Linked DNA regions of Homo sapiens. The protein of the gene in region 2 purifies or fractionates together with the protein of the main gene of each other region. This does not show direct contact. Each region holds a gene or a part of one and is shown on either strand. Other genes may lie near its edges. The genes, in order: PGM3, GLO1, IMPA2, AKR1B15, MROH9, TRPM4 and AKR1B1.

Evidence for each region.
Region 1: the proteins of GLO1 (region 2) and PGM3 fractionate together in Homo sapiens (co-fractionation; one large-scale study listed by BioGRID). This does not show direct contact.
Region 3: the proteins of GLO1 (region 2) and IMPA2 fractionate together in Homo sapiens (co-fractionation; one large-scale study listed by BioGRID). This does not show direct contact.
Region 4: the proteins of GLO1 (region 2) and AKR1B15 fractionate together in Homo sapiens (co-fractionation; one large-scale study listed by BioGRID). This does not show direct contact.
Region 5: the proteins of GLO1 (region 2) and MROH9 purify together in Homo sapiens (affinity purification with mass spectrometry; one large-scale study listed by BioGRID and IntAct). This does not show direct contact.
Region 6: the proteins of GLO1 (region 2) and TRPM4 purify together in Homo sapiens (affinity purification with mass spectrometry; one large-scale study listed by BioGRID and IntAct). This does not show direct contact.
Region 7: the proteins of GLO1 (region 2) and AKR1B1 fractionate together in Homo sapiens (co-fractionation; one large-scale study listed by BioGRID). This does not show direct contact.

What each region holds. Positions count from the first base shown.
Region 1 is NC_000006.12:83,172,479-83,176,635, forward strand, and holds part of PGM3 (phosphoacetylglucosamine mutase), read right to left. Parts: intron 3,583-4,157; coding exon 3,484-3,582; intron 2,010-3,483; coding exon 1,896-2,009; intron 1-1,895. UniProt on the Homo sapiens protein: Catalyzes the conversion of GlcNAc-6-P into GlcNAc-1-P during the synthesis of uridine diphosphate/UDP-GlcNAc, a sugar nucleotide critical to multiple glycosylation pathways including protein N- and O-glycosylation.
Region 2 is NC_000006.12:38,682,320-38,686,476, forward strand, and holds part of GLO1 (lactoylglutathione lyase), read right to left. Parts: intron 2,196-4,157; coding exon 2,055-2,195; intron 557-2,054; coding exon 489-556; intron 1-488. UniProt on the Homo sapiens protein: Catalyzes the conversion of hemimercaptal, formed from methylglyoxal and glutathione, to S-lactoylglutathione. Involved in the regulation of TNF-induced transcriptional activity of NF-kappa-B. Required for normal osteoclastogenesis.
Region 3 is NC_000018.10:11,987,690-11,991,846, reverse strand, and holds part of IMPA2 (inositol monophosphatase 2), read right to left. Parts: intron 1-4,157. UniProt on the Homo sapiens protein: Phosphatase that can use myo-inositol monophosphates, myo-inositol 1,4-diphosphate, scyllo-inositol-1,4-diphosphate, glucose-1-phosphate, beta-glycerophosphate and 2'-AMP as substrates in vitro.
Region 4 is NC_000007.14:134,562,071-134,566,227, reverse strand, and holds part of AKR1B15 (aldo-keto reductase family 1 member B15), read right to left. Parts: intron 1,631-4,157; 5' UTR 1,609-1,630; coding exon 1,459-1,608; exon of another isoform or gene 748-1,458; coding exon of another isoform or gene 682-747; intron 1-681.
Region 5 is NC_000001.11:171,060,697-171,064,853, reverse strand, and holds the end of MROH9 (maestro heat-like repeat-containing protein family member 9), read right to left. Parts: intron 2,723-4,157; coding exon 2,660-2,722; intron 756-2,659; coding exon 514-755; 3' UTR 89-513; downstream 1-88.
Region 6 is NC_000019.10:49,167,792-49,171,948, forward strand, and holds part of TRPM4 (transient receptor potential cation channel subfamily M member 4), read left to right. Parts: coding exon of another isoform or gene 1-125; coding exon 126-306; intron 307-468; coding exon 469-632; intron 633-761; coding exon 762-945; intron 946-3,565; coding exon 3,566-3,627; intron 3,628-3,786; coding exon 3,787-3,978; intron 3,979-4,157. UniProt on the Homo sapiens protein: Calcium-activated selective cation channel that mediates membrane depolarization. While it is activated by increase in intracellular Ca(2+), it is impermeable to it.
Region 7 is NC_000007.14:134,448,951-134,453,107, forward strand, and holds part of AKR1B1 (aldo-keto reductase family 1 member B1), read right to left. Parts: intron 2,804-4,157; coding exon 2,636-2,803; intron 1,953-2,635; coding exon 1,836-1,952; intron 848-1,835; coding exon 770-847; intron 170-769; coding exon 47-169; intron 1-46. UniProt on the Homo sapiens protein: Catalyzes the NADPH-dependent reduction of a wide variety of carbonyl-containing compounds to their corresponding alcohols.

The DNA.
Region 1 (4,157 bases), about 44 Mb from region 2:
TAAAACGCCATCTATACTAAAAATACAAAAATTAGCTAGGTGTGGTAGTGGGCGCCTGTAATCCCATCTACTCGGGAGGCTGAGGCAGGAGAATTGCTTGAGCCCGGGAGGCAGAGGTTGCAGTGAGCCAAGATTGCGCCACTGCACTCCAGCGTGGGCAACAGAGCGAGACTCCATCTCAAAACAAAACAACAACAACAACAAAAAAAACCCACTAAAGGCAGGCCCGCAGTTCATTCAGCATCCCCAAGGGAAAAAGACCCTCTCAGCCTCCTTCAGCTATGATACATCGTTTCCATGCATGCCAGATATGTATCATATTTTTTACTATTAAAATACTTGTGTGTGAATAAGTGTAAAAAAATGATTGATTGCTTATTGATTGATAGCATATAAATTCAGAGTTTTAGGAATGATGGTGATGCCAGACAACCACAGATTGTCCAACGGGTGGCTGACAGAGTGACACCTTTGCTTTCTGATGGTTCAGTAGACACAAACTTTGTTTCATGCACTAAATTTACAGTATTCTATAAAACCACCTTTAATCTTATGTAACATACATGAAACAAAAGAATTTAGTGTTTCCGACTTGAGTGCCATACCCAAGATGTCACATTATATATATGCAAATATCCCAAAATCCAGTGAATCTGGAACCCAAAACACTTCTAGTCCCATGCATTTTGGATAAGGGATACTCAGCCTATATCATGTGCTTTCTCACATGCAGCATGATTAAATGAAGTGTTTTTGTGGATGGATAAAATACGAACAATGAGGTGAAGATCTCTGTGGAAGACAATGAAAGGTATAACAAAGAATACTGAAACTAGCTCTTGAGAAACTTGCCTTTAGTACTCCTTATTTATAAAATGAAATTAGACTGGATAACTCTAAGGCTCAGCCTAACATTCCATCACTCATTTTTCTTTTTATAAATAGATCCCTTTTGAGATATTACCCCACAATGATTGATAGAAAGCATCAAGGTAAAATGGAGAAATATGAGCTTTGGTATAAGATATAACTGAAGATAAATCTCTGTTTCTTCACTTATAAAATGGAAATTACAGTAACACCTCTCCCTGTGTTACTGTAAGGATTACACAGCAAGGTATATAAAGTGTCCAGTGTGTGCAAGACACTCAAATAATTGAATCGCTTTCCTCTACCCTGAGTACTGCTTTTCCATAGCCAAACGACACTCCAACCCCAACTAACCCACATGTATGTCCTTTGTCAATGAGACAACCAGTTATTTGTGTTTGTTTTTGAGACAGAGTCTCGCTCTGTCACCCAGGCTGGAGTGCAGTGGCGTGATCTTGGCTCACTGCAAGCTCTGCCTCCCGGGTTCACACCATGCTCCTGCCTCAGCCTCCCGAGTAGCTGGGACTACAGGTGCCCGCCACCATGCCCGGCTAATTTTTTGTATTTTTAGTAGAGACGAGGTTTCACCCTGTTAGCCAGGAGGGTCTCGATCTCCTGACCTCGTGATCCGCCCTCCTTGGCCTCCCAAAGGGCTGGGATTACAGGCATGAGCCACCGTGCCTGGCCTGACAACCAGTTATTTTTACTTAATTTCATCGAGGTTTGGTTAAAAAAAAATTAATAATATATATGTATACACTGAGTAGCTGAATCTGTGATCCTAGGTAGAAGCTACCCAATATACTTGAAAATTTCCATCATAAGAGGTAGGGGAAGGGAAGCATATTAAAAAATGTTCTGTCATTCCATTTCATTATAAATCTCAACTGAATATACCACTATTAGAAGGAAGCCACCAGGCCAGGACGTCTCCACTTTAATTTTGTATGCACCCACACTCTGTTCTGTCCATCTTCTGAATAATGTAAAGGTAACCAAGAGTCCACTGCCCCATCAGTTCTGACCTGGTTAAACAAGTCAATAATGTTTTCAAGCATCTTAGCAGCTTTTCTTTTCTTATCTTCCAGTTGTTCTGCTGATTGTTTTATCTTCATTTCAACAGCTGTACTAAACAGTGCCTGCAGCAAAAGAATATAAAATCAGTCTCAAAACACTATCCAAAACCTAGTCATAAGTACTATTATTCTAGCTAACCCACTTTTCCCTCCTAGTCAATCTGGAGAAACTGAGGGGAAAAATAGTGGCAGCCTTAAAATGTATGAAATTAATGTAAGATCACATTAAAACCCAGAGGATAGTACTAGGGGAAAAATTTTATTTGCGGATTATATAACTGGTTATAAAAATTTAAACATCTGATTACAAAGAAAACACCACCTTGACAAGAGGCAAGCACACACAGTAAGTTCATGTTTTCCCTTTAACCAGCTAAATCATTTCTGTGCAACCAGGTTACTTAGAGCCTGTCTGTATCCTTTTTACTTTGAAGGATATAATTCATTGCAGCTAGTATAGTTTTATTCTAAAACTTAAGGGGATGAGCTAGGCAAAATTAAGAGTTCATAGTATTCATCAAAATATGGCAAATAATGTCATGGATAGTCATTACAATATATAATTCATCATGCTCCTCAAGAGTCTTATCTCATTTGGAAATACTCATCTTTTTTACTGCCTTCTAGAGGCCTAATACTGAGCAAGATTAGCATACTATGCTCAACTACTTGATGAAATACATTTTTCTTGATAAAATAAGGCACAGGCTAGTCACCTGTTTTTGTAAAGTTTTACTGGAACACAACCACACAGATTCATTTAAGCTAGATCAGCAGAGTTAAACAACTGTAAGAGACCTTATGGCCTGAAAATCCAAAAATATTTACTCTCTACCCTTTAGAAAATAATTTACCAACTTCTCCATTCGATCACTAAAGTTATATCTTAATTGCATTTTGTAGGAACTTATTTTTCCCCTTTTTATATTTATGCCCTCCAAAAGCCAATTTTAAATTAATGAGGAAAATTATTTGGCTTTGATTCAAATGTTCTGATAGCCACCTCAAGTGTATTCATTAAATGAGGTGAGTATAAAAACATTTTAAAAATATTCTGAACATTATGAATCTACAAAAAACTAAATTATACACTTTAAAATGTAATTTTATGTAAAATGTAAATTGAAACATTTTATGCCTATCACTAGTTACCTTAAATTCATTTTCATTTCTTATTAATTATCAACTTTCCAACACTTTGCAATTCACCATAGCGACTGAATTTTTCTTTTCCTCTCCTATGGCCAGCCGGAAAATGCATAGACAACATACTTATAAAAAAATTAAGAACTGTAAATTTTAAAAAACTATTCAAAACACCTTAGTATATCTCTTCACATTCAAAGAAGAATCATTACCATGTAAAAGAGAATCACAGTTTCATAATACATCAATATATAAGATAACCAAAGGATCTTTTTGTCACATCCAATTATTTCAACAAAGTACAATATTACCTATTATTACCTCCCAGATATAGAAGTCTCATCATAAAGAAAAGTGCCAGCTAAGGCCAACTATAATTAAGAGAACTTACAGTGCCATGCCCATTTGCTTCAAAATAAACTCCAATGTCAAACTCTTGAGCCTTGTGGTGCAAATGTTTTACACCAGTCTTAGTGCAATAGACAGGTACCTATAACACATGCATTTAAAGAAATACAGCAATTACTCAGATGTCAAATGTTTCTTGCATACCTAGTATCCCAGAGATACAAAGGGGAACAAAATACTGGGGCCGAGTCCAGTGAGGAAGACGATTAAGCATTAAAATACAAAATGGTACGTATACAATGGAAGCATGAACACACTCTGGAAGCACGCAGCCAAGGGTAAAGCACGGTGAGAGAGATGAGGGTCTCCTTATAAGACACGAAAGATTACAAGTGGGGGCGTGACATGACCTAACTGTTTTAGAAAGCTGTTTAGCTACAGTGTGGAGAATAGCTTAGAGCAGAATTGCAAGCTTTTTCTGTAACAGGCCAGACAGTAAATATTTTAGGCTTTGCAGGCCATATGGTCTCTGTCACAATTACTCTGCCATTACAGTGCAAAAGCAGCCACAGACCATACATAAACAAATCAACATAGCTCTATTCCAATAAAACTTTGTTTGCAAATAGCAGCAAGTTCAATTAGAAGGTTAAGAAATGGAATGAGGAGGCTTCTAGGACTAATCCCAGTAAGAAATAGTGGCTGGATCAGCAATAG
Region 2 (4,157 bases):
ATTTAAAATTAATCAATATCAGCTCATATACAGTCTAATCAGTTAAGAATAATCGACACCAAAAAACAGTAATCATTTACTAATACTTAATAGGTTTGTGGTTGGCATTGACTATAGCAGCCAGCTGAAGCCTGCAATACTGTCATCTTGATTGAGAGACTGGAGATCAAGGCAGAAGTGTATGTGCTAGCAGAAACTGGGATTAGTATTAACTACAGCTTTTTTAAAAAAAAAAGTCTACTGGAAATTAATTCTGAGACTTAAAAGTAAATCATGGTGAGATGGTAAGTGTAATTTTAGATCGAGACTCTGAAATTAAACAACTCCTAAATAAGATTATTTGTGGAAAATAAAAATAATCATATCTCTAATAAATTGATCATACTTAATTAGGACATTAATGTTTTAGGTTTATTAAAATCATAATTATATACATAATACAAAATCACACAAATCTACATATATCACATAAAAACAGGCAAACTTACCGAATCCTCGAGGGTCTGAATTGCCATTGTGGTAACTCTGGGTCTCATCATCTTCAGTGCCCCAATTGCTACAAAAGGAAGGAAAACATAGCTACAATGTCCTAGGGAATAGATATTCTGAAAAGCAAGTAACATCTTTGAAATCTTACCACGTTTATATGCTACTTTACATAATTGGCCTAACCCCTGCTACAAAAATATTAAGTTTTCAACTATAGAAAGGACAAATGGCCAAAGTATGATTTTAACGAGACTAAAGAGACAGTAAATACAGGTACTGGACAAGAACAATAATAAGAATAATAATAATGCTCATTTATTGTGCTAAGTACTTTATATTTCATTTAAACCCTTAAAACAGCTCCATGGGCTAGGTGTGAACATCTCCATTCTATTGATGAAACTGCCACTTACTTGTTTAGAGTCACAGACTCATATCTAAGCCTGCCTGATTCCAAAGCTTTATTTTGAATCAAGGGACACACGAAATCACACACTCTGAAATCAATCTCTTTTAAAGTATGCAGATAAACAATGTAAAGAAATTGCCTACATTTTTAAGTGCTCAAGTTATAAAAATACCAAATTTGAATGTTAATTATTACAAAATGGTTTGAAGAATTTTTAAAGGAACACATGATATCACATTTCTGGATCCAAAATGTAGCAAAATAATAAAAGAACAAAATTTTGGATGCTGAAAGACTAATTATAGTACCTAAAAATTAGTTAGAGACAAACAGGCAAATATCTTACAATTTCAGGGTCTTATATTCTCTTATCTAAAAGACAAATGGAGGCCGGGCGTGGTGGGTCACGCCTGTAATCCCAGCACTTTGGGCGGCCGAGGCAGACAGATCACGAGGTCAGGAGATCGAGACCATCCTGGCTAACATGGTGAAACCCCGTCTCTACAAAAAATACAAAAAATTAGCTGGGCGTAGTGGCGGGCGCCTGTAGTCCCAGCTACTTGGGAGGCTGAGGCAGGAGAATGGAGTGAATCCGGGAGGCAGAGCTTGCAGTGAGCCGAGATCGCGCCACTGCACTCCAGCCTGGGCAACAGAGCAAGACTCTGTCTCAAAAAATAAATAAATAAATAAATAAAAATAAAAGACAAATGGGCCAGGCGTGGTGGCTCATGCTTATAATCCCAGCAGTCTGGGAGGCCGAGGCGGGCGGATCACTTGAGGCCAGGAGTTTGAGACCAGCCTGGGCAACATAGTGAGACCTTGCCTCTATGCCTCTACCAAAAACAAACAAACAAAAACTAGCTGGGTGTGGTGGCACACATGTGTAGTCCAAGGTGCTCAGGAGGCTGAGGCAGGAAGACTACCTAGAAGTTAGAGGCTTCAGAGAGCCTGTCTCTAAAAAAAACACATCTCATTTGCCCAAGAACAATACAAAGATCAAAAGATGCATGAAAAACACTTCAATATATTATTAAAAATGTGAAGTCATAGGCAGATCTGGTTTGAATTATACTGGTCAGTAAACAAAACAAAAAAGATTTTTAAAAACTACCTTAAAAAATCTATAATATATATAAATATAGAAACTCATACTCACTGTGTCAGCTCAAGTGTAGCTTTTCTGGAGAGCGCCCAGGCTATTTTTTCATCTTTTTCTTTAGGGATGTCATTTTTATCCTCATAAGCCAAGAAGTAGAGTGAAAACTTCATAATGGGAAAATCACATTTTTGGATTAGCCTGCAATGAAAAAACAACAAGCCTGAATCATTAACAACAGGAAAGGCTAATTCATACTATAATCAACATAACTTAATATTCAAGTTTTACTAAAAAGAAGAGCTATATGTAGTAAGCCTATTTTAATGGAATAAGCAGGAGGAAAAATCAGTGAAAAAATATCATGAAAAATGCATCTGTAAATATTTGAAATACAAAAATGAAAACTTCTGTAATTCATCAATTCTGTAAATATAGTAACATTTAGCTGAAATTATGGTACTTGTTAATAAATAGAAACGGCTATCTCCAAAAGAGAACTGTGTTTATTTGTACTGAAAAATATAAAGAACCTTGTTGCTATTTCATATATATACACACATACAAACACATATATAAATATGTCATTCAGTTAAATAAACACATTTATTGAGTTCTTACTATGCCAAAACATCTAGGAAAGGAAATTAAGGATAGGTGGTAAGAAAGAAGGAGGAAGGACAGACTAGTATCACAGAAGACGTGAATGTCAACAGTAAGGTGGCTAACAGTATCAGATACTGTAGAAAGGTCAAACAGTATTAAGACTAAGAAAAGGTCATGAGATATGGAAAGGTCCCATGAGAGCAATGTCAGCAGAGTGGGGAAGCATCAGCTGGATTACACTGTACTGGGGAGAGAGAATGGCAGGTGAGCAGGTAAAACAGTAGCAAGCATGGCAGTGACAATGGGGAGGTAGGCGAAGGAGCAGAGGGCAAGAAATATTCTGGAACAAAGAAGACTTACGCTTCTCTGAGGGGAAAGAGACAGTAGAAGAGACTGATGGGAGAGAGAGTGAATGAATTATGAATCCTGAGGTTTTAAGAAAGATAACTGAAGTCCTGAACCTTAAATGACTTTAAATGGTATAGGATTATTTGGCAAGGAGTAAGGTGGCATGAGAATGCATATATGATTTTCTTTAGATTATTCAAAGATGACTTTGTTCATAATCAATAAGAGCAAATGGCTGTTATTGCCATATAGCAAATGGAAAGTTTCTAGAGTTCTGCTTCCAATCTTTTATTTCATTATCACTGCTATATAATAGACCTTGGCCCACTTAGATCCTTGCATTGACTTATCACAAATAAGATTTACTCTAACATGTTTATAATAAAGTATCAAACACCTCAAATACTCCAATCATGAAAAACAATCTCTGCACCTACTAAAGCAGACTACACAACCCTCATGGACCAATCAGTTGGGACTGAAGGAAATGAAACTGTTGCAACTTGCTTTTCTCAGCTGTTCAAATCTTCCAGCTTACTGTCAACTTGTACCCTATTTGGGGGCTCTGCACAGGAAGTCTACATTAGAGCCCATCAGACAATGGATACAGGTTCCAGCCCTGCCATATGCCAACTGTGGGATTTGGAGCTAGTAACTTCATCTCATTAAGCTTTGGTTTCTCCGTCTGTGAAATGGGGATAAAAGCTACCTCCTAAGACTGGTGTGAAGACTGAACAAAATAACATTTGAAGTGCCTGGCAAAAGTGTTCAATAAATCTGTTTTCATTTTGTCCTTTAAATATGTCATAAATATATTCATAATACCTTTTTCTAGAAAAAAATCACAAGAAACTGGACAGCAGTTATCTCTGGGGAGAAGAACTTGGGGAGGGAAGCTATTACTTTTCATTTTGTATTTTTCTGAACTGGTCAAATTTTCTAAATATAGACATATATTACTTAAATTTTTCTCTCAATGTGAATGGAAGTTATCTAGGCACTAAATTTAAAGATTATTTTATTATTCATGTATCTATATGCTCAAAAGCAAAATGCTCACATAACTTAGGGAAACAAATCAACAATATGACAAAATTATTTCTCAATATACCTCAGTAAAGCTGGAGAAAAAAAGAAAAATAAACATGCTTTAGAAAAATAAGTATGCTTTAGGATTGCAAGATCAGTGGATATGACCTGTTGAGCAAA
Region 3 (4,157 bases), on a different chromosome or scaffold from region 2:
TTGTTCTGGGTGTTTCTGCGAGGGCATCAGCATCTTAATCAGGAAAGTAGATCCCTCTCCTTCCTGTGGGCAGGCCTTGTCCAACAGCTGAGGGCCCAAACAGAATGAAAAGGCTGACCCTCCCCCAAGTAAGAGGGGGTTCTCCGCAAATGGCCTTGGGACTCTGTCCACATGAACAACTCTTCCTGCCCTATGGCCTTCAAACTGGAACATCAGCTGTCTCTCCGCGTCTCCAGCTGCCAGCCCACCCTGCAGACTGGACCCACCCACCTCCTGCCGGTCCTGTTTCTCTGAAGAACCTGATACGTGTGACAATCAATAAAACCTAACAGTTCATCGGGTACCCAGGTAATAACACGCCTATCACATGGTGTCATGTGGCACATGTGGTCAGCAGTTCACAGCTGTTGATGCGTCACAAATCTCTGTACAACCTCAACCCTGGGAGGAAGAGGAGGAGCTGGTCCAAGCAGACGTGGCTCCCAGGCCAGCCCACCTCAGGCTCTCGAATCCTCAACGCCTCCTTTAGTCTCGTGGCTATTTTTCCCCTCACCTTGATCTCTAGTCGCCCTCCGCCCTGACAAGGCACTGGCACCTTCCATACCAATGCCAGCAGCCACCCGTCACCCACATCCCAGCTGCATTCCCTGTGTTCCAGGGCCCGTGGCCTGTGGCCCCTGCCTCCCCTCGTGGCTTTCCTCCTATCTCCCCACCATTCTGCGGCTCATCTCCCTCCCACTATTCCTTGAAAGTGGGTGTTTGCAAGCCCTCGGACCTGCCTTCAGCAGCTGAGCTTCCTGGAGATGGCCTCCACCTCACACCCTGCCCAGCTCCACGGCCTGAGCTCAAGCTTACAGAGCGCTTCTTCTGCCCCGTGCTGTTCTGAGCAGTTCACATGTACATTTATTCCACACAGTAACTCTGAGGACAGCAAAAATTATTCTCCACGTTAAAGATGAGGAAACGGAGGCAAAAAGAAATGGAGAAAGTTGCCCAAGGCCCTGCAGCTGTAAGGTATAGGGAAGGGGTTCCCAGCACCACAGTCCAAGTCCACCATCGCTAAACAGAGCCGACCCCACGGCTGGAGCCGTCACAATTGATTACTTCCTAATCCCTCTCCAGCTCACATTTCTCTCAAAAGCAATGAGAGCCAGCCAGCTGCATGAGCCAGAAACCCAGAAGTCCTTTATTCCTATGTCTCCTTCAATGTACGACTCATCAAGTCCACCCCAACTCACAGCCCCCAAGGGCCACACCCCATCAGTTCGAGCAGGACACCCACCTGCAATTCTGCCCTCCACACGGGGCCCCCAAGTCCTGACCTCTCCCACCTCAAACTTTAGCCAAAGTGCATTTCTTGGAGGTCCTTGGTGCTATGTTCTCTTTTGCCCCTTCTGCTTTCATCTTCTCTATTGGCCCCGACCCCTCCTCTTCTCTCTCCCCTCCCCAAGCCCATCACCTAACCTTCCTAGCTGACTCCTGCTTTTTTTCTAAAGACACACTCAGCTGTGACTTCTTCCAGGAAGCTGTCCACATCCCAGGTGCTGGGATGGCCTCCCAGTCCGCCTGCACACTGCAGTGACTGGCCAGGTCTGCACCTCCTCCATCTCTCACATGAAAGGTGAGCCCAGGGGCAGGGCGCCAGCCTGCAGAAGGCCTCCTGCAGCGCTCATGGCAGGCTAGGGCAGAGCTGGGACAACGGACACAGGATCCTGAGACTGGCTCAGCCTAGAGACCAAAGCCTTCCCTCACTCCCACAGAAGAGAGAAGACGCAAACCAGGCTCCAGGCTCCTGTCTCCACTGGGCCCAGGAGGAGGCCAGGAGAGAGGGAGGGGCCTAGACTCCGGAACTCCCCTCTCCTTCTCAATGTCTCAGCTCCCCATGCCTTTGAGCTCCTGCCTTCCTCCACCCCTAAAGCTCGAGGAGGGGGCCTGTATCTCACTAGCAGCCTCTCCATCCTCTGGCTGAGTGATTTCACCCACCCTCCTGCCCCAAACTCCAAAGACAGTAATCTCCCCTGGGCAGCGCTTCATTGGGGTGAGCAAGTGACAAGCTCAGGGCCACAGAGTCCAGGACTCACTCTCCCCGTGGGGATGAGCCATCTACCAGCCTCTCCTTAAGGGGGCACAGGTGGGACCTCACTGGCACCCTGGAGTGCCAAGGGCTGGGATGAGGCTGCCCAGAGGCAAGGGCAGTGCCTTCTGCCCTCCCCCTTCTTCTGAGACAGCTTTTGTTAGCAAAATGGGTAGGAAATGATAGGGACCTCTCAGATAGGGTCAGGAGCAGTGGGCCTCGGACCCTTGGAGACCATGTACCGACCCCCACCCCACCAAAGGGACAGCTGCTACTCTGTGCCTGCCAGCTGCTGTCTCACAGGAATTCTGTCTCTGCTGATGTTTGAAATGTTGTTGAGTTTTCGAATTTCTCACGTAGGCTGACCCCACCCTGCAGAGCTAAGCAAACACTGCAGGTGTGGACCAGGCGAGGCAGGAGCTGGAGGCCATCACCACCGCCTCCTCTCCCCCTCCTGCCTCCTCTTCCTCCAGCGACAGGTGCGCTCAGCCCAGGCAGGAAGAGCAGGGAAGCCTTTTCTGGAGAAATGAACCACTTCAGAAATGACCTCCACAAACTGGCATTTGTGAGGCTCCCAAGGAGGAAAATGGGAGCCTGACCTGAGCTCATCCGACGGCAAAGCCCATCAGTGGCCAAGCCTGCTCTCCTCCTGTCCGGGACATGGCCCTAAATACCATCTCCAGGAATATGACTTCCACACTGCATCTCTGCCGTCAGCTTGGGTGCAAATCCAACATCTCCACTTAGTGAAACCCCGTCTGTACAAAAAATTAAAAAATACATATTATCCAGGCATGGTGACACATGCCTGTAGTCCCAGCTACTCAGGAGGCTGAGGTGGGAGAATCACTTGAGCCCAGGAGGTAGAAGCTGTGATTGCACCACTGCACTCCAGCCAGGGAAACAAAGCGATACCCTGTCTCAAAAAAATAAAATAAGAAATCTACTGGCAATTCGAGCTTAACCTGCACAGAAGAGAACACTCGACTCTCAGCTCCAAACCTGTTCCTCCTGCAGTTTTGCCATCTCGGAAAGTGGCAAATCCATTCAACCAGCTTTTCAGGCCTAAACCCCTGAAGTCACCCTTGGCTCCTCTCTTTCTCTCACACCCCACATCCAACTCAGAGGCTGTCATCTCAGCCTCCAAAGTAAATCTTCTTCACCACCTTCTTCATGCACCCCAGTCAAATCCACCCTCATTTCTCACGTGGCTTCCTATCAGATACCTGATTCTGGTCTCCCTAGTGTCCCACAAAGGACCTCATGCAGCAGCCAGGGTGGTCCCCTATATAGAGTCCTATAAAGCCCCACACAAGACTCTGCCCCAAACCTCCCCTCACATTCAGAGTAAAAAGGCTAAAGTCCTTTCCTGAGTTGTTAATGATTCTTTGTTGGATGAATAAATTTATAATCAATGTGTTATTACCATCATTTTAAAAGCAAATAATATCAAAGAAGCCAATAAACAGCTGGGCACAGTGGCTCACGCCTGTAATCCCAGCACTTTGGGAGGCCAAGGTGGGTGGATCACATGAGGTCAGGAGTTTGAGACTGGCCTGGCCAACATGGTGAAACCCCATCTCTACTAAAAATACAAAAATTAGCCAGGCGTGGTGGCACATGCCTGTAATCCCAGCTACTCGGGAGGCTGAGGCAGGAGAATTGCTTGAGCCCGGGAAGCGGAGGTTGCAGTGAGCTGAGATCGCACCACTGCACTCCAGCCTGGGCGACAGAGCAAGACTGTGTCTCAAAAAAAAAAAAAAAAAAAAAAGCCAATAAACATGTGCATTTAACTTCATTAATTATCTAAGAAACGCAAATTAAAACTACAATAAAATACCAACTCAAGCCCATCAGAATGGCTACAATATAAAAGACAGACCATACCACATGTTGTGGAAGACGTGGGGAAAAGGGAACCCTCACACACTGCAGGGTGGAGTGTAACTTGGTACATCCTCTTTAGAGAACTACTTGGCAGAATTTACATTCCCAATGACACAGCGATTCTACTCCTACTATTAATAAATCCCCAACAGAAATGCACACATAATCAAAAGACATGTGCAAGAAAGTTCACAGC
Region 4 (4,157 bases), on a different chromosome or scaffold from region 2:
GACCTCTCAGGCTCAACACTCAATCTCCACCTCAGCCTCCCAAGTGGCTGGGACTACAGCTGCATGCCACCATGCACAGCTAATTTATTGATTATTTGTAGAAATTGGGTCTTGCTATGTTGCCCAGTCTGGTCTCCAACTCCTGGGCTTAAGCAGTCCTCTCGTCTGGATCTCCCAAAGTGCTGGGATTACAGGCATGAGCCACCACACCCAGCCAGTTCTGCATGTCTAACAAGCTCCCAGGTCATAGGGATGCTGCTAGCCCAAGTCCCACATGGTGATCTGCAAAGTGGTGCCAGGGACTTCTGGCTCTGCATCCTCTCCACAACCACCCAGCCCACAACAAACCCACAGCCAAGACTCTGGGGAAACCTTGTGCCCAATTAAGTGTCCTAGAGCCAGAGAGAGAAACTGCCCTGGAAAACAATTTTAAGTCCAACTCTGCTTGAAATTTGATACTTGCTAGAGGAGTTCTCATCACTGCTGGGAAAGCCAGTCTTGCAGCATTGCAGCTTGAATCAGCTTTGAGAAAAGAAAGCAACCCGAGTCCCAGCTCCAGGACTGAAATTCACCTCTCCAAACCCCTACCCGACCTCCAGGCTTTTCTGGCTGAATGTAGAAAGAGAAAACACCCAAACAGCCCTCCAGAGAAGAAAGTTGTGCAAAGATTTGCATATTTACCCTCCAAGTGCCCAGGCCCACAATGGGCATCTTGGCTTTTGTACTGAGCTCCACAAACGTGGCCATGGTTGGTGCGGAAATGATTCTGAGTGAGCAGGTAGAAGTCTCACGTCCTGCTGTGTCCAGAGTTGGTTCCTTCCAGAGGGTTCGTGGTCTCGCTGGCTTCAAGAATGAAGCCGTGGACCTTCACAGTGTGTGTTACAGCTGTTAAAGATGTTGTGTCTGGAGTTTGTTCCTTCAGATGTGTCTGGAGTTTCTCCCTTCTGGTGGGTTTGTGGTGTCGCTGACTTCAAGAATGAAGCCGCAGACTGTCGTGGTGATCGTTGTAGCTCTTAAAGGTGGTGTGGACCCAAAGAGTGAGCAGCAGCAAGATTTTTCGTCAAGAGGGTAAGAACAAAGTTTCCACGGTGTGGAAGGGTATCTGAGCGGTTCCCTGCTGCTGCTGACTGGGGTGGCCAGCTTTTATTCCATTATTTGCCCACATCCTGCAGATTGTTCCATTTTACAGAGTGCTGATTGGTGCATTTACAACCCTTTAGCTAGTTACAGAGTGCTGATTGCTGCGTTTTTACAGAGTGCTGATTGGTGCATTTACAATCCTTTAGCTAGACACAGAGCACTGATTGGTGCATTTACAATCCTCTAGCTAGACAGAAAAGTTCTCCAAGTCCCCACTTGACCCAGGAAGTCCAGCTGGCTTCACCTCTCAATCCCCCATCTAAACAGGACACCACAACTGCTGTTGGGAATTGGGTGATGACCTCTCTAGCCACTTACTGCTGGATAGGGGCGAAGAAGGGGCCCTGCACTTGTAGTGTCCTTCAGAAGGGAACTCTTTAGGCCAGTCAAAGGGCCAACGGGTTGGTCCAGGGGTCCTTGGTGGAAGTTGTTAGTTGAGTTCACTTGGGGTTCCATTTGTAAGACCATCTGTAGCTTGATGGCCTCGATCCTAGAGGAAACAAATTTGACAAGGAGGTTAAAAATACAGGGCCCAAAGGTGAGTAATAGCAAGATGGCTTTCATGGGACCTAGAAAGGGGAGAAGCCATGTCGCCCAACTCCAGAGGTTGGTGTAAGAATTAGAAAGGCATTGCCTGATTTCAGAAGCCTTTTCCTGTAAACGCCGGGCAGCATCTCGTATTATCCCTGACTGGTTAGTGTAAAAACAATACTCTTCCCCTAAAAAGATGCAGAGCCCTCCTTTCTCAGCAGTGAGGAGGCCTAGGCCTCAGTGGTTTTGGAGAGTCACTGCTGTCAAAGAGTCTATTTAGAACTGTAGAGTAAGGATAGATTTTGTTATTTCTTGCAAACTGTCTGAGAAATCCTTTGAGAGTGTGTGATAGTAGGATAATGAAGTAGATAAACTGGCTATTCCGGTTCCCATAGCAGTAGCCATTCCTAACCCTATAAGCAGGGGTATTAGCTGTATGGCTCTGTGCTGACGGACTTGAGTTTTGAGGGGCACTGATAGGGTCTGATTTCCTGGGGCAATGTTAATGTTGGGACATAGGAAGACTAAGGTTGCAGGTGCCTGTCCAGTTGGTCGGGAGGCAGATATAGGTTGACATTCCACAGAAGAAGAATCTGCCTTGGCTAGGTAGTCAGAACTGGTTGTGTATGTTAAAAAGGTGTGTGAGTTTGTCGTTTTCATTTTCCCATACTCCTAGAGTACTTGCCAAGGTAGCTGTGGTAAGCGGCTAGAAACGGGTGTTGGGAGCAAACTGAGTGGCTGTTTTCTGTTTTCCCATTGGAGAAAAAACTGTTTTGTATCTACTAGGAACCATTTGTGAAGTGACTGAAAGATGGGATGAGATGGGATGAAAGATTGGTACATTTTTACAGAGTGCTGATTGGTGCATTAACAATCCTTTAGCCAGACACAGAGCACTGATTGGTGACTTTACAATCTGCTAGCTAAAGAGAAAAGTTCTCCAAGTCTCCACTCAACCCAGGAAGTCCAGGTGGCTTCACCTCTCACTGCTTTTTGTTTGTTTGTTTTTGAGACGGAGTCTTGCTCTGATGCCCAGGCTGGAGTGCAGTGGTGTGATCTTGGCTCACTGCAACCTCTGTCTCCCAGGTTCAAGCAATTCTCCTGCCTCAGCATCCTGAATAGCTGCGATTACAGGCACCCACCATCACTCCCATCTAACTTTTGTATTTTTAGTAGAGACAGACTGGTTTCAAACTCCTGACCTCAGGTGATCCACCCACCTCGGCCTGCCAAAGTGCTGGGATTACAGGCATGAGCTGTGCCTGGCCACATCCTGCTTTAGAAGGCTTGTGCTAGCTGCAGTGGGAAGAGCTGGAGCCTGGCCACAGTAGCTTCCCTGCCCTGTCCAAACAGAAAATCCATTCCAGGCTTTTGTGAGATTGAGGATTCTGTGAATGAATTATTAAACATGACAACCTTTTGCAAAGTTCTCTTGGGTAACAGTATCATTGGAGTTTCTGTTTGTTCACGATGAGTCAACAAATTCAACACAGCCCAAAGTTGGAAAGTAGGGAGGGAGAGAGAAAGGAAGGAAAGAAGAGTTGGGGGAGGGAGGGAAGGAATGAGGGAAGAGTAAGGAATAGAGAAAACAGACAGAAAAAGACAGAAAGAGAGTAAAGGAAGGAAGGGAGCAAGGAAGGAAGGAAAGAAGGAAGGAAGAAAGAAGGAAAGAAAGAAAGAAAGAAAGAAAGAAAGAAAGAAAGAAAGAAAGAAAGAAAGAAAGAGAAAGGAAGGAAGGAAGAAAGGAAGGAAGGAAAGAAAGAAAAGAAAAGATTAAGAAAGAAGCCTGGCCAACATGGTGATACTCCCTCTCTACTAAAAATACAGAAATTAGGTAGGTGTGGTGGTGAGAGGTGTAGCCAGCTGGACTTCTGGGTTGGGTGGGGACTCGGAGAAATTTTCTATCTTACAAGAGGATTGTAAGATGCACCAATCAGCACTCTGTAGCTAGGATTGTAAAATGCACCAATCAGTGCTCTGTGGCTAGCTAGAGGTTTGTAAAATGGACTAATCAGCACTCTGTAAAATGGACCAATCAGTGCTCCGTATAATGGACCAATCAGCGCTCTGTAAAATGGACCAATCAGCACTCTGTAAAATAGACCAATCAGCACTCTGTAAAATGGACCAATCAGCACTCTGTAAAATGGACCAATCAACAGGAAGTGGGTAGGGACAAATAAGGGAATTAAAGCTGGTCACCCCAGCCCCCAGCAGCAACGCTTAGGCAACCCGCTTAGGTACCCTTACAGGATGTGGAAGCATTGTTCTTCCGCTGTTCAAAATAAATCTTCCTGCTGCTCACTCTTTGGGTCTGTGCCATCTTTAAGAACTGTAACACTCACTGTGAAGGTCCGCTGCTCCAGTCTTGAAGTCAGCCAGACCACAAAACCACTGGAAGGAATCAACTCCAGACACAGTGGCACATGTCTGTAATCCCAGCTACTTGGGAGGCTGAGACAGGAGAATTGCTTGAACCTAGGAGG
Region 5 (4,157 bases), on a different chromosome or scaffold from region 2:
CCTTTCCCTTCTTCAAGTTCCATATCTTTTTTGTTAACACTGCCCTAGGCAGTCTTTCTCCCAGCATGATAGAAATGACCACACTATGTGTCACTAGACTGTGCCCATCCTGAGATCAGGAACCTTGTCTATATCATCCAAATGTCCCCACTGCCTAACACAGTATCTGGCACTTAGAAGGTGCTCAGTAGAGCTTCCGGACTGAATCAAGTTCCCAGAGCTTCTCATCAAACACTTTGCTTATGTTATTTTCAATTGTCTTAGTGGTTTTGATGAAATAGGGCTTCTGATCACTGTCAGACATACAGAGGCACTAGTTCTCTCAGATTTCTATATTTGAATAGAGAATTAAGAAGTAACAGTAAAAGCTTCCAGAATTTTTCAGAAAAGCATCTACAAACAGACTCAAGTTGTCAGGAGGGAAAGAAAAATCATTCTTCTTCTAAGGTCAGCTCCAAGACATTGTTGGACTTCCCATTGTTTATGAATGATGAATGTCATCATCATTCTCTTCTATAAGGCCTTATCATTCTTGACATCTTTACTGTCTGTAGGACTGTCTATCTGGCCATTGGGTGAGTTATAATTGTAAAGAGGCTTCAATTTTTTGATGTAGAATAATTTAAGCAATTTTTGGAAGTTTTGTTTAAGAGGTGCAGAGGTCAGTTTATGGGCTTTTTTCTTAAAAATATCATAGGTTATTTCAGCCAACTGTTTGATCATAGGGTCTTCATCTCGGAGCAGTCGTTCAATAACTGTAATATCAGAAGAGACTTTAGTTCAAGTTATCTCTTTCTTAGAGGCCATGAAGCTTTAATACTAAACAGCCCTGCCACCTTTCACAGAGTGCCCCCTTCTCTCCATCTCTCCTCTGCATTCCCTCTGCATTTTGTAACTTTGGCTGATAGCATTCAGGAAGTTTTATCATCTATCCCTACTAAAACCCCACATAGACCCCATTAAAAGAAAAATGGGAATATTCACTAAAAATTACCAAGGACCTTTTATGTGCTGAGCATTCTGCTAGATAACATAAACATGTATTCATATATTTAGGAAGAGGTTCATATTGGTCATAATAATGAAAAAGTTAAAATCAGTCTCAATGTTCATTAACAGGGAACTGCTTAAAAATTAGGAACATAAAATGAAATGCTACATACATATTAACATAATGTAGGCCCATATTTCTTGGCTTAGAAAGATGTTTATATTATAAAGGTAAGTGAAAAAGTTAAAAAGCAGTTATGATAGTTTAAAAAAATATATAATAGCTTTCATTCTTTAGAAATATCCTGGATAGGCCAGGCACGGTGGCTCATGCCTATAATCCCAGCACTTCGGGAGACCGAGGCAGGTGGATCTCGGGGTCAGGAGATCGAGACCATCCTGGCTAACACGGTGAAACCTCATCTCTACTAAAAATACAAAAAATTAGCCGGGCATGGTGGCATGTGCCTGTCGTCCCACTTACTCAGAAGGCTGAGGCAGGAGAATCACTGGAACCCAGGAGGCAGAGGTTGCAGTGAGCTGAGATCACACCACTGCACTCCAGCTGGGTGACAGAGGGAGACTCCGTCTCAAAAAAAAAAAAAAAAAAATCCGGGATAATACATATACCAAAATGTTAATATCATTATATCCAGATAGTGGACTGTGAGAAATTACTATTTTATTTCTCGATAAAAGAAATAGAAACAAAGGGGGAGATTTAGAAAACAGAGATGAGAAGAGCAGGATGGGGGGAATGAAAGAAGAAAATGACTGTAAGAAAGAAAGATGGAAAATTCTAGTGTTTGACATTTAGCAGGTAGTCAAATATGTGTTGAATGAATGAATGAGTGAGTGAATGAATGAATGGATGAGTGAATAAGGAAGGAAGGTAATGATGTATAAATGTAGGTCCATGAATTATAATAAATGTACTACTCTGGTGGGGGATGTCGATAATGGGGGAGGCTATGCATAGGTGAGGAGAGAAGGTACTTGGGAAGTCCCTGTACCTGCAGCTCAATATTGCTGTGAACCTGAAACTGCTCTAAAAAATAGTCTATTAAGAAAGAAAAAGGAAGGAAGGCAGCCAACTTGTTTTTATAACTCACTATTTGTAATTCTTACCCTGATGGGACGATAGACAGAGGCTAAGGGAGATTCCTAAGACCCAAACATTTTGATAGACTAATATTACCCTTCTTTAATTCCCTCCTCTGCAAATGTATTGTACATTGCTATCCACTAAAATGTGAATTCTCTGAGGGAAGAGACTGCTTTATTTGCAACTCTGTCCCTAGCAGTAAATAGTGCTGTCACGTAAACATAAGAGATGCTAAAAAATATTTGTTAGATGAATGAGTAAATGAGTTTTCAACTTTCTGAAGTTCCCAAGGGCTCTAGGATGATAGTTCTCAGACAATTAGTGGAATACATGGAGAGACTGAAACAGGGAAAGAGAGTAAGGGGAAATAGAATAGAAAGAGAAAAAACAAACCTCTTAACCCAGTCCTTTCATTGATTCTTCCGTAATTATCCAACTACTACTACCACCACCCTCTTCCTGTCTGGCCTGGCACTCTAACAGAACTCATATGTGACTAGAATTAAAAATAGTAAATGTATTTAGATTTATGCATAAAGATTTTGTTATAACCTCAATACTCACCATCAAGCATGACTTCGATTTCATCTCTAAGCAGTAAATGACCACCTGATTTTGCCAAATATCCTATGCACATAATAAAAATTAAAGTTACTGCAACATGCATTATGAAAATACATTTTCTGATGTTATCTGGCTACCTTCTTTGCTTTTTTCAAAGCAAAGCATCTCTATATTATCCTTGAGTCATCTTTTAGTACTTTTAATTATTGTCTCATAAAATTGTTTATTGAAAGATATATGAGAGTATAAATGTGCATGAATCATATTGGACAGCTCAGTGAATGACCACAAAAGGAACACACCAGGGCTACCATTTAGGTTATTAAATAGAGTTTTAGCAGCATCCTAGAAGCTTCCTTCAAGGCTCTCCCAGTCTCCTCCTCCACCTTTCAGAATATATTCTTTTGTGTCTGCTTTCCTTTGCTTCATATTACCTTTTAAGATTCAACCATGTTCTTTCATGTAGCAATAGTTTGTTCATTTCCATTGCTACATGGCAGAGGCTAGCAAATAAAGTTTTCTTGAGATACAGCCATTCACATTGGCTCATTTGTTTACATATCTATGGTTGTTTTCATCATACCACAGCAGAGTTGCAACAGAGACTATATGGTACTCAAAGTCTAAAATATTTACTATTGGGCCTTTAACAGAAAGAGTTTGCTGAACCTGCTATATACAAGTACATCTTACGAATGCATCATTTTTTAAATCCATTCTGCTGTTGATGGGCGTTTGTGTTGTTTCCAGTTTGGAGCTATTATGAATGATGAAGTTATGGGAATTCTTGTACATGAATTTTGGCAGGTATTTGTATAACTGCTGTTTGGTATATAACTAGTGGATTTACCGGGTATGCTTATGTTCCACTTCAGCGGTTACTGCTAAACAGTTATCCAAAGTGGCTGTACCAATTTTCACTCCCACAAACAGTACGCTAACATTTTCATTGCTCTATGTCCTCCGAACAATTGATACTGTTAAAATGTTTCCTTTCAGTCATCCTCATGGGTTTGGTGATAATATCACATTGTAATTTTAATTTTCATTTTTTGTTGTTAATTAATAAGATCATGTGTGTATTTACTGGCCATTTGGATGTCTTCTTTTGTGAAATGCTTATTCAGATAAGTCTCTTGCCGGTGTATATATTGAGTTATCTTTTTCTTAGTTACTTGTAGACGTTTTAAAGTTCTAAGTACTAATCTGTTTAAAATGGTGCATATCTTACAATATCTTCTCTTATCTCATGGCTAAATTTTTCCATTTGCATTTGTTTTTTAATTAACACAAACCCCTAATTTCAATGTAGTTGAACTCATCATCTTTACATTTATGGTCAGTTAATTTTGAGGTCCTGTTCAGGAAATGTTTGCTTGTCTTAAGCCATAAAGATATTCTCCTATATTTACTTCTGGAAGCTTTACTATTTTACCTTTTATGCTTATATATACCATCCATCTGGAGTTATACAGCATGAAGTTGGGGTCAAGATATT
Region 6 (4,157 bases), on a different chromosome or scaffold from region 2:
CCCTCTCTCTCTGGGTCTCTGTCCCCGTCTCTCTGGGTCTCTGTCCCCGTCTCTCTGGGTCTCTGTCCCCGTCTCTCTGGGTCTCTGTCCCCCTCCCTGTGTGCCCCGCTCCCATGTGTCCACAGTTCCTCCGGCTCTCTGACCGAACGGATCCAGCTGCAGTTTATAGTCTGGTCACACGCACATGGGGCTTCCGTGCCCCGAACCTGGTGGTGTCAGTGCTGGGGGGATCGGGGGGCCCCGTCCTCCAGACCTGGCTGCAGGACCTGCTGCGTCGTGGGCTGGTGCGGGCTGCCCAGAGCACAGGTGACCGAGGGTGGGTGGGGGCTGTCTCCTGGGCCTCGGCCTGCCTGCCATCTCCCCCACGACTGTGGGTGGCCTCCCCCGCCGCCCAGTGTGTGTGTGTGTCTCTGTCTTATTCTTTGTTTCTCTCCCCCTGCCTCTGCATGTTCCTCGGCGTCTGTGTAGGAGCCTGGATTGTCACTGGGGGTCTGCACACGGGCATCGGCCGGCATGTTGGTGTGGCTGTACGGGACCATCAGATGGCCAGCACTGGGGGCACCAAGGTGGTGGCCATGGGTGTGGCCCCCTGGGGTGTGGTCCGGAATAGAGACACCCTCATCAACCCCAAGGTGTGACCCAGGGACTTGGAAAAGGGGGCTGGAGGCCTGGACTCCTGGGTCTGAGGGAGGAGGAGGGGCTCGTGTTTGTCCTTCTGGCCCCGATGAGGAGACGCCCTGGTCTGGCCATTTTTCCCCTAGGGCTCGTTCCCTGCGAGGTACCGGTGGCGCGGTGACCCGGAGGACGGGGTCCAGTTTCCCCTGGACTACAACTACTCGGCCTTCTTCCTGGTGGACGACGGCACACACGGCTGCCTGGGGGGCGAGAACCGCTTCCGCTTGCGCCTGGAGTCCTACATCTCACAGCAGAAGACGGGCGTGGGAGGTGAGTGGTCGAACCCATGACCCACAACCCACGACCCACAACCTGCAACCCCAGCGCTCAGGATCCCAGTAGTTTGGTCTGGTCGAGATTTGGGGAATTACCTATGGTTAAGTGTCTTTCCCCGTCATTATTCATGGTTTTAAAAACTTCTGTCTGAGAGTGAGTTAGCTCACATCAGTAATCCCAACACTTTGGGAGGCCGAGGTAGGAGGATTGCTTGAGGCCAGTAATTCAAGACCAGCCTGGGTAACAGAGCAAGACCTTGTCTCTACCAATAATAATAATAATAATAATAATAAAGAATAAAAAATAAATTAGCCAGGTGTGGTGTCGTGTGCCTGTAATCCCAGCTACTTGGGAGGCTAAGGTGAGAGAACTGCTTGAACCCGGGAGGTGGAGGTTGCAGTGAGCCGAGATCAAGCCACTGCACTCCAGCCTGGGCGACAAAGCAATACTCCATCTCAAACAAACAAACAGACTTTATTTTGAAATTTCTCATACATACAGAAAAATGCACGAAGGTGGACAGCTTGATGCATTTTTTTCTTTTTTTGAGACGGAGTTTTGCCCTGTTGCCCAGGCTGGAGTGCAGTGGCGCGATCTCGGCTCACTGCAGCCTCTGCCTCCTGGGTTCAAGCAATTCTCCTGCCTCAGCCTCCTGCCTCAGACTCCTGAGTAGCTGGGATTACAGGCACGTGCCATCACACCCGGCTAATTTTTGTATTTTTAGTAGACGGGGTTTCACCGTGTTAGCCAGGATGGTCTTGATCTCCTGACCTTGTGATCTGCCTGCTTTGGCCTCCCGAAGTGCTGGGATTACAGGTGTGAGCCACCGCGCCCGGCCTAATGTTTGTATTTTTAGTAGAGATGAGGTTTCACCTTGTTGGCTAGGCTGTTTTCGAACTTCTGACCTCAAGTGATTCGCCCACCTCAGCCTCCCAAAGTGCTAGGATTACAGACGTGAGCCACTGCACCTGGCTCCGGCTAATTTTTAAAGTTTTTTGTAGAGACAGGGTTTTGCCATGCAGCCCAGGTGGCCTCAAACTCGTGGTCGAAAGTGGTCCACCTGCCTCAGCCTCCCAAAGTGCTGGGATTACGGTCGTGAGCCACTGCGCCCAGCCAGCCAATATCTTATAATTTTATCAAAACATGAACAAGATACATTACTAGGTTTGAGGAAAGTTTTTGATTTTTGTGTATTTTTCTTGTATCAATCCTCTTACCAAATTTTCTTATTGATCTTTATTTTTATTTTTGGTGGGGTTTTCCAATTTTCTGGGAATACAAGCCATGTTTTCTTCAAATAGGTACTTTTGTCCCTTCCAGCTTTACAAAAAACCAAAAACCAAAAAATCAATTTTCACTTCAGTGATTTCATTTTTTTGCATTATTGAGTTAGCTCAAAACTCCAGGATGAATACAGTGTTAGTGGTAATGTGGTCTAGTTTCTAATTTATTTATTTATTTTTTTGAGAGGGAGTCCTGCTCTGTGCACAGGCTGGAGTGCAGTGGCGTGATCTCAGCTCACTGCAACTTCTGCCTCCTAGGTTCAAGCGTTTTTCCTGCCTCAGCCTCCCGAGTAGCTGGGACTATAGGCACGAGCCACCACTCCCAGCTAATTTTTGTATTTTTGGTAGAGACGGGGTTTCACCATGTTGGCCAGGCTGGTCTTGAACTCTTGACCTCAGGTGATCCACCCGCCTCGGCCTCCCAAAGTGCTGGGATTACAGGCATGAGCCACCGCACCTGGCCTAGTTTCTAATTTTAATGGAAGTAGAGTCGATATAGTGCTATCTTTATGGTGCAATTGGATTTTGGTAAATATCTATATTGTGGTTAGATAGCCCTTTCTATTCCCATTTCCTTTACTTTCTATTTGAACTTTCACTCCCTCTGGCTCCTGGATGGTTAATCAATGACAGGATTGACTCATACAAGAAACACCTGCCTCATTCAGGGACTCAGGAGTCTAGGTCCTCAGCCCCCTCCTCCCTGGGGAAGTTAAGCATTACTGTCTTCAAAATCTAGCTCCCTCCTGAAGTGTCCAAAGACATGACAATTCTGGCCAGGCGCGCTGGCTCACAGCTGTAATCCCAGCACTTTGGGAGGCCAAGGTGGGAGGATCCCTTGAGTCCAGGAATTCGAGACCAGCCTGGGCAAGATGGCAAGACCCCTGTCTCTACCAAAAATTAAAAAGTTAGCTGGGCACGGTGGTGTGTGCCTGTGGTCCCAGCTACTTAGAAGGCTAAAGTAGGAGGATCAAGATGTAGTGAGGTGTGATCATGCCCCTGCACTCTATCCTGGGCGATAGAGTGACACCCTGTTTCAGAAATTAGGCTGATGCGGTGGCTCATGCCTATAATCCCAGCACTTTGGGAGTCCAAGTTGGGAGGATTGCTTGAGGCCAGGAGTTCGAGACCACCCTGGCCAACATAGCAAGACCCCCATTTCTAAAATAAATACATAATTAAGTAAAAAAAGAAATGACAATTCCAATGAGCCTCTGAACAGAAGATTAGGACAAGGCTGATGTTTGCCGACTCCTGGGAAATGCGGTTTTCTCCTATCTCCAGCAAAGGCTGATGGGAGGTAATCAAGCCCCCTTCTCTTCTTGCCTCAGGGACTGGAATTGACATCCCTGTCCTGCTCCTCCTGATTGATGGTGATGAGAAGATGTTGACGGTATAGGGGCCCGGATGCCCGGATCTAAGGGGGAAGGAGGGTTGGGGGCCAGGACTCCTGGGTCCTGAGTCTTAGGGAGGGTCTGGGGGTCTGACTCCGGGTAGGGTGAATATCCTGCCTTTTCTGACGTGATGAATAAAGAATGCCTTTATCCTGTAGCGAATAGAGAACGCCACCCAGGCTCAGCTCCCATGTCTCCTCGTGGCTGGCTCAGGGGGAGCTGCGGACTGCCTGGCGGAGACCCTGGAAGACACTCTGGCCCCAGGGAGTGGGGGAGCCAGGCAAGGCGAAGCCCGAGATCGAATCAGGCGTTTCTTTCCCAAAGGGGACCTTGAGGTCCTGCAGGCCCAGGTATGACACTGGGGGCCCAACTCTGGATCCTGAGATGGGAGGGAACTGGGGACTTGGGCTCCTGGGTCTGAGGGAGGAGGGGCTGGGGGCCTGGACTTCCAGGTTCCGGGAGAAGAGGGTGCTGGGCATATAGACTATTAGGTCCTGGAGGGGAATGGCCTCCTCCATCCCTTTGGACA
Region 7 (4,157 bases), on a different chromosome or scaffold from region 2:
GTAAAACAGCAACGTTGCAATGCCAGTGTCGTTGGGGGATGTTTACCTGGTTAACTGCAGGCTTATACTTCAAGCCAGGTTTGTTTAAGATCATCTCCACCTGGAGATGGTTGAAGTTGGAGATGCCAATAGCTTTCACCAGCCCTTCATCCACCAGCTCTTCCATGGCCTACAGAGAAAAGTGTCTGTGTGGTGCAGAAACGAACCCAGAAAGGACAGGATCAGAAGTGTCGTTTGCACCAGTTTAACGGGTCCTGCCCTCACTCTTCAGTGCCAGTGAATTAGACCTTTCAGAAGCTAAGAGACAGTGAGACGAAAGCCAGGCTGGCTTTAATGAGATAAGAAGAGCAAACAGGCCGGGCGCGGTGGCTCACGCCTGTAATCCCAGCACTTTGGGAGGCTGAGGCGGGCGGATCACGAGGTCAGGAGATCAAGACCATCCTGGCTAACACGGTGAAACCCCGTCTCTACTAAAAATACAAAAAAATTAGCCGGGCGTGGTGGCGGGCACCTGTAGTCCCAGCTACTCAGGAGGCTGAGGCAGGAGAATGGCGTGAACCCAGGAGGTGGAGCTTGCAGTGAGCCGAGATTGTGCCACTGCACTCCAGCCTGGGCAACAGAGGGAGACCCCAACTCAAAAAAAAAAAAAGAGAGAGCAAACAACAGGGACAGAATAACAAAATGCAATGTGAGAAATGGCAGGCAGATTGCTTCTAAGAAGAAGAGGGAACCAGTCACGAAAACAAGGTCCAACCAGGGGCTGTCTTACCGCCCACGTGTCCAGAATGTTGGTGTCACTGGGAACCACATTGCCCGACTCATCCAATGGGAAAAATTCCTTCCCAGGCTGTCATTACAATAAAAAACAAACAAACAAAACAATCAGTAATAGTCCTTCACAGACCTGCTGGGGGAAGCTGGCATCTAAAACAATTCTAAACCACCACAGCTGGCTAGGGATAATCTGTGTGCCACTATGAAAAGGAAATAGGCAGATAGCCAACACTTCTTTATCAAACGGGCTGGAGCTGAGACTGTCAGACGGAGACATGGACACTACTTGGTCACAGAGACTAGCCCCGCCACTGACTGCAATGTGTGGATACAGGAAGGACTCAAGACCAGGACTCACAGGGCCCAAGGCCTGGCGGGTCACTGGCCTATAAAACTACCACCTGGCCCAGCCTCCCCAGCTTACCCCTAAAATCAAAAGATAAAAGTCAAGTCCCTTCAGCCCTGATATGCTGTGGTGCAATAAAACAGGGCTACGGGATAAAGCTAAACCCACACTTTGAACCTGGCTCACAGCAGAAAACTGAGGCAGTGGCTAGAAAAAAGGCAAAAGACAAAGTAACTCTCAAGTTCTTCTTGTGCCAACAACTAGACTGCAAATAGTTACCGGGCCTCCACAGGACAGGGTATGCATGTAGAACGTGGGTAGGGACTCATGTGTATGGGGGTTGGTGTGTGCACGTGCCTGGAGGGGAGGGCCAGGGCTGACCGTGCCTCATGGCTGTGTGCACTACAGACAGCAGCTGTGTTTGCTGACAGTTTTAAATTGCACATCTACCAACTGGCAAAGAGCAGTGCTCCTCAAACTTTGAAGAAGTGTGCGTATGAGTCACTGCTGGTGCGGATTCAAATGGCCTGCGTGGGGCCCGAGACTGTGATTTCTAAGACGCTCCCAGGTGATGCCAGTGCTGATGGTCCACTGGCTATACCTTGAGCAGCAAGAACAGAAAGTCACCCACACGTAATCTGCTAAGGGAGCTCAAAACACACCACAGGTTGCACCTGAGCCCCAAGGGACCTGGTCTGCACCAGGCATCCCATACCTTAAAGCCAGTCGGCCAGTGAATAAGGTAGAGGTCCAGGTAGTCCAGCTTCAGGTCGCTGAGTGTCTTCTGGCAGGCTCCTTTCACCAGGCCCTTCTCATGGTACGTGCACCACAGCTAAGCCAGCGAGAGGGCACATGTCATCATTGCCAGCCACAAGGCAGCTTCCTGGCTGGAAAGACAGAGCAGTCTCCTCTCCCCAAAACCCATTTGCTTTACCATGATGCTGTGAATGGTTGTGAGGGCATTTCCACTGCGTACTGGATCCTAACTTTCCAAAGGCAGGCAGGATGACCAGGTCACAGAGACCTCTTACAAGGACCAGAGGACACAAAATGGAATGGACAGATTGGCTAGCCTGCCCTAGGCCTAAGCAAGAACTCTCGAAACTTTCCCCCCGGGCTGGTGTTTGTGGAGCCAGCCCCATCCTCCTGCCTCATGTCCTTTGTGCATCAGTATCTCAGGTCAAAGACAGTGGCTAGCACTGGAGATTCAGTTTGCAGATGGGAACCAAGTTCCATCCTTGAAAGCGACTCCCTGGAAAGGGAGGGCCAATCCACAACCTCAGCCTCATCAGCACGGGACTCTAAGCAATGGGCCCAGATGGAATGACCATTCAACAGAGAGCCAAGGATGGGCGAGCTCTGGAGCCCTGTATGGCCGTGGGTGATACGTTTCCCCGGGAAGAATCGCCCATCAGTGAAAAGTGTAGCTGTATTGAGTGTGGACTTGGCTTTGGGCTGATGCACCAACAGATGATGGGACCGAGAGCCCCTTCCAGCCCCACCGCGGAACGATACCTTGCTGACGATGAAGAGCTCCTCACGCTTCACCACCTGCTCCCTGAGCTTCTCCTGAATGGCCACCCCCACCTCATTCTCATTCTGGTACACATGGGCACAGTCGATGTGGCGGTACCCGACGTCAATGGCCACCTTCACGGCCTCAGTCACCTGCCCTGGAGGGGACTGAAAGGAGAAAGAACGTGAGCCCCGCAGAATGCAGAGTCTGCACAGCAAGGAGGAGGGGCAGTGGCAGCCACCGATACCTGCTGACCAGCCTGCCACTTTGTTCAGCAAAGACAGACCACGTGCACTTCCTCAGCAGCATTCTGGACTATCAGCCTCAGACGCGGGGGATGGAAGTGAAAGGCCACACAGCATTGCCCTGTAGGAGAATCTGACAGCCACTTAAGTGTAGGTGAGATCACTTTTAAAAGATATGCTGAAGCCATCTCATTTTCTTGCTTCTTCACATCCACTGATTTGCAAACCACTGTATTAAAAACATTTCCCCACACTCTGAATGCTGAGATAGTAAGGGAAACCATTTCCTTCAAATATCTCAAAATATTTCAAAAATAGATGTCCTATGGACCCCAATTCCCATGTGGCTCCCCAGTTCAGCCAGTGAATGCCTGCCCCTTACGCTCTCTTTTCATGCATGGCTTCTGATACCGGCAGTCGCTTGTTTTCAAGCGGTTCTGGGAGATTATCATGAAGTTAAGCACATCACTGATGTTTATTCAAAGGCCCATGTGTCAATTCTCACTGTATGAGGATCTGCTTCAAGGGGTGGAGACACGGGAGATGGCCCCTCAGAGGTATCAGCAGAGAGAAATAAGTTAAAGGGAAACGAGGGGGAATGTGGATCATGGAAGATCACCAAATGGTTAGTGGCTGACCTGGCAAAATGACTGAATGGGTGTCCATGGCCAAGCCACCTGACCATCTGAGTAACCAGAACAGCTGTGGGGAGCCTGGCTACTGAAGAGGAGGAGGAAGTGCCTACATGGCATCGCGCTTCACTGGCACCCAGGTAGGCTGCATGGACACGTATCCCCCAACTTTCACTATCCTGCTATGATCACAGAGCTGAGCAATAAACATGTGCAGCGGGCTGTTGAATGAACAGAGCACATTCCTTTGGAGAGCTGGGGTAGAAACAAATGAAAAGAAAAACCCCCCAGGGCCATAGCAGCTGCAGACATCTGTGTTTTGACATCAGCTATTTTCAACAGGCTTTGGGGAAGAAAGGGGCCCAGTTGAACAAGCCCGTTACCAGAGCCTGTTAGCATGGAGCTCACTCTCCACCTCAGAGGGAGCAGCGAGGCAGGGTGGGGATGCTCATCGAAGGTGTGGGTTAAGAGGGGACGACCCTCAGAGGACCTGGCGACCTCTTATTTGACTGGAGGACCTCAGAAGCTGCTCTTGCAGCCTTCCCCACTCTGCACGGTTGAAGGAACAGAGAATCTCAATTTCCAGAAAGAATGCCTTACCACAGGCCCTGAGTGGTGTCCGGGCACAACCACCACTGATGACA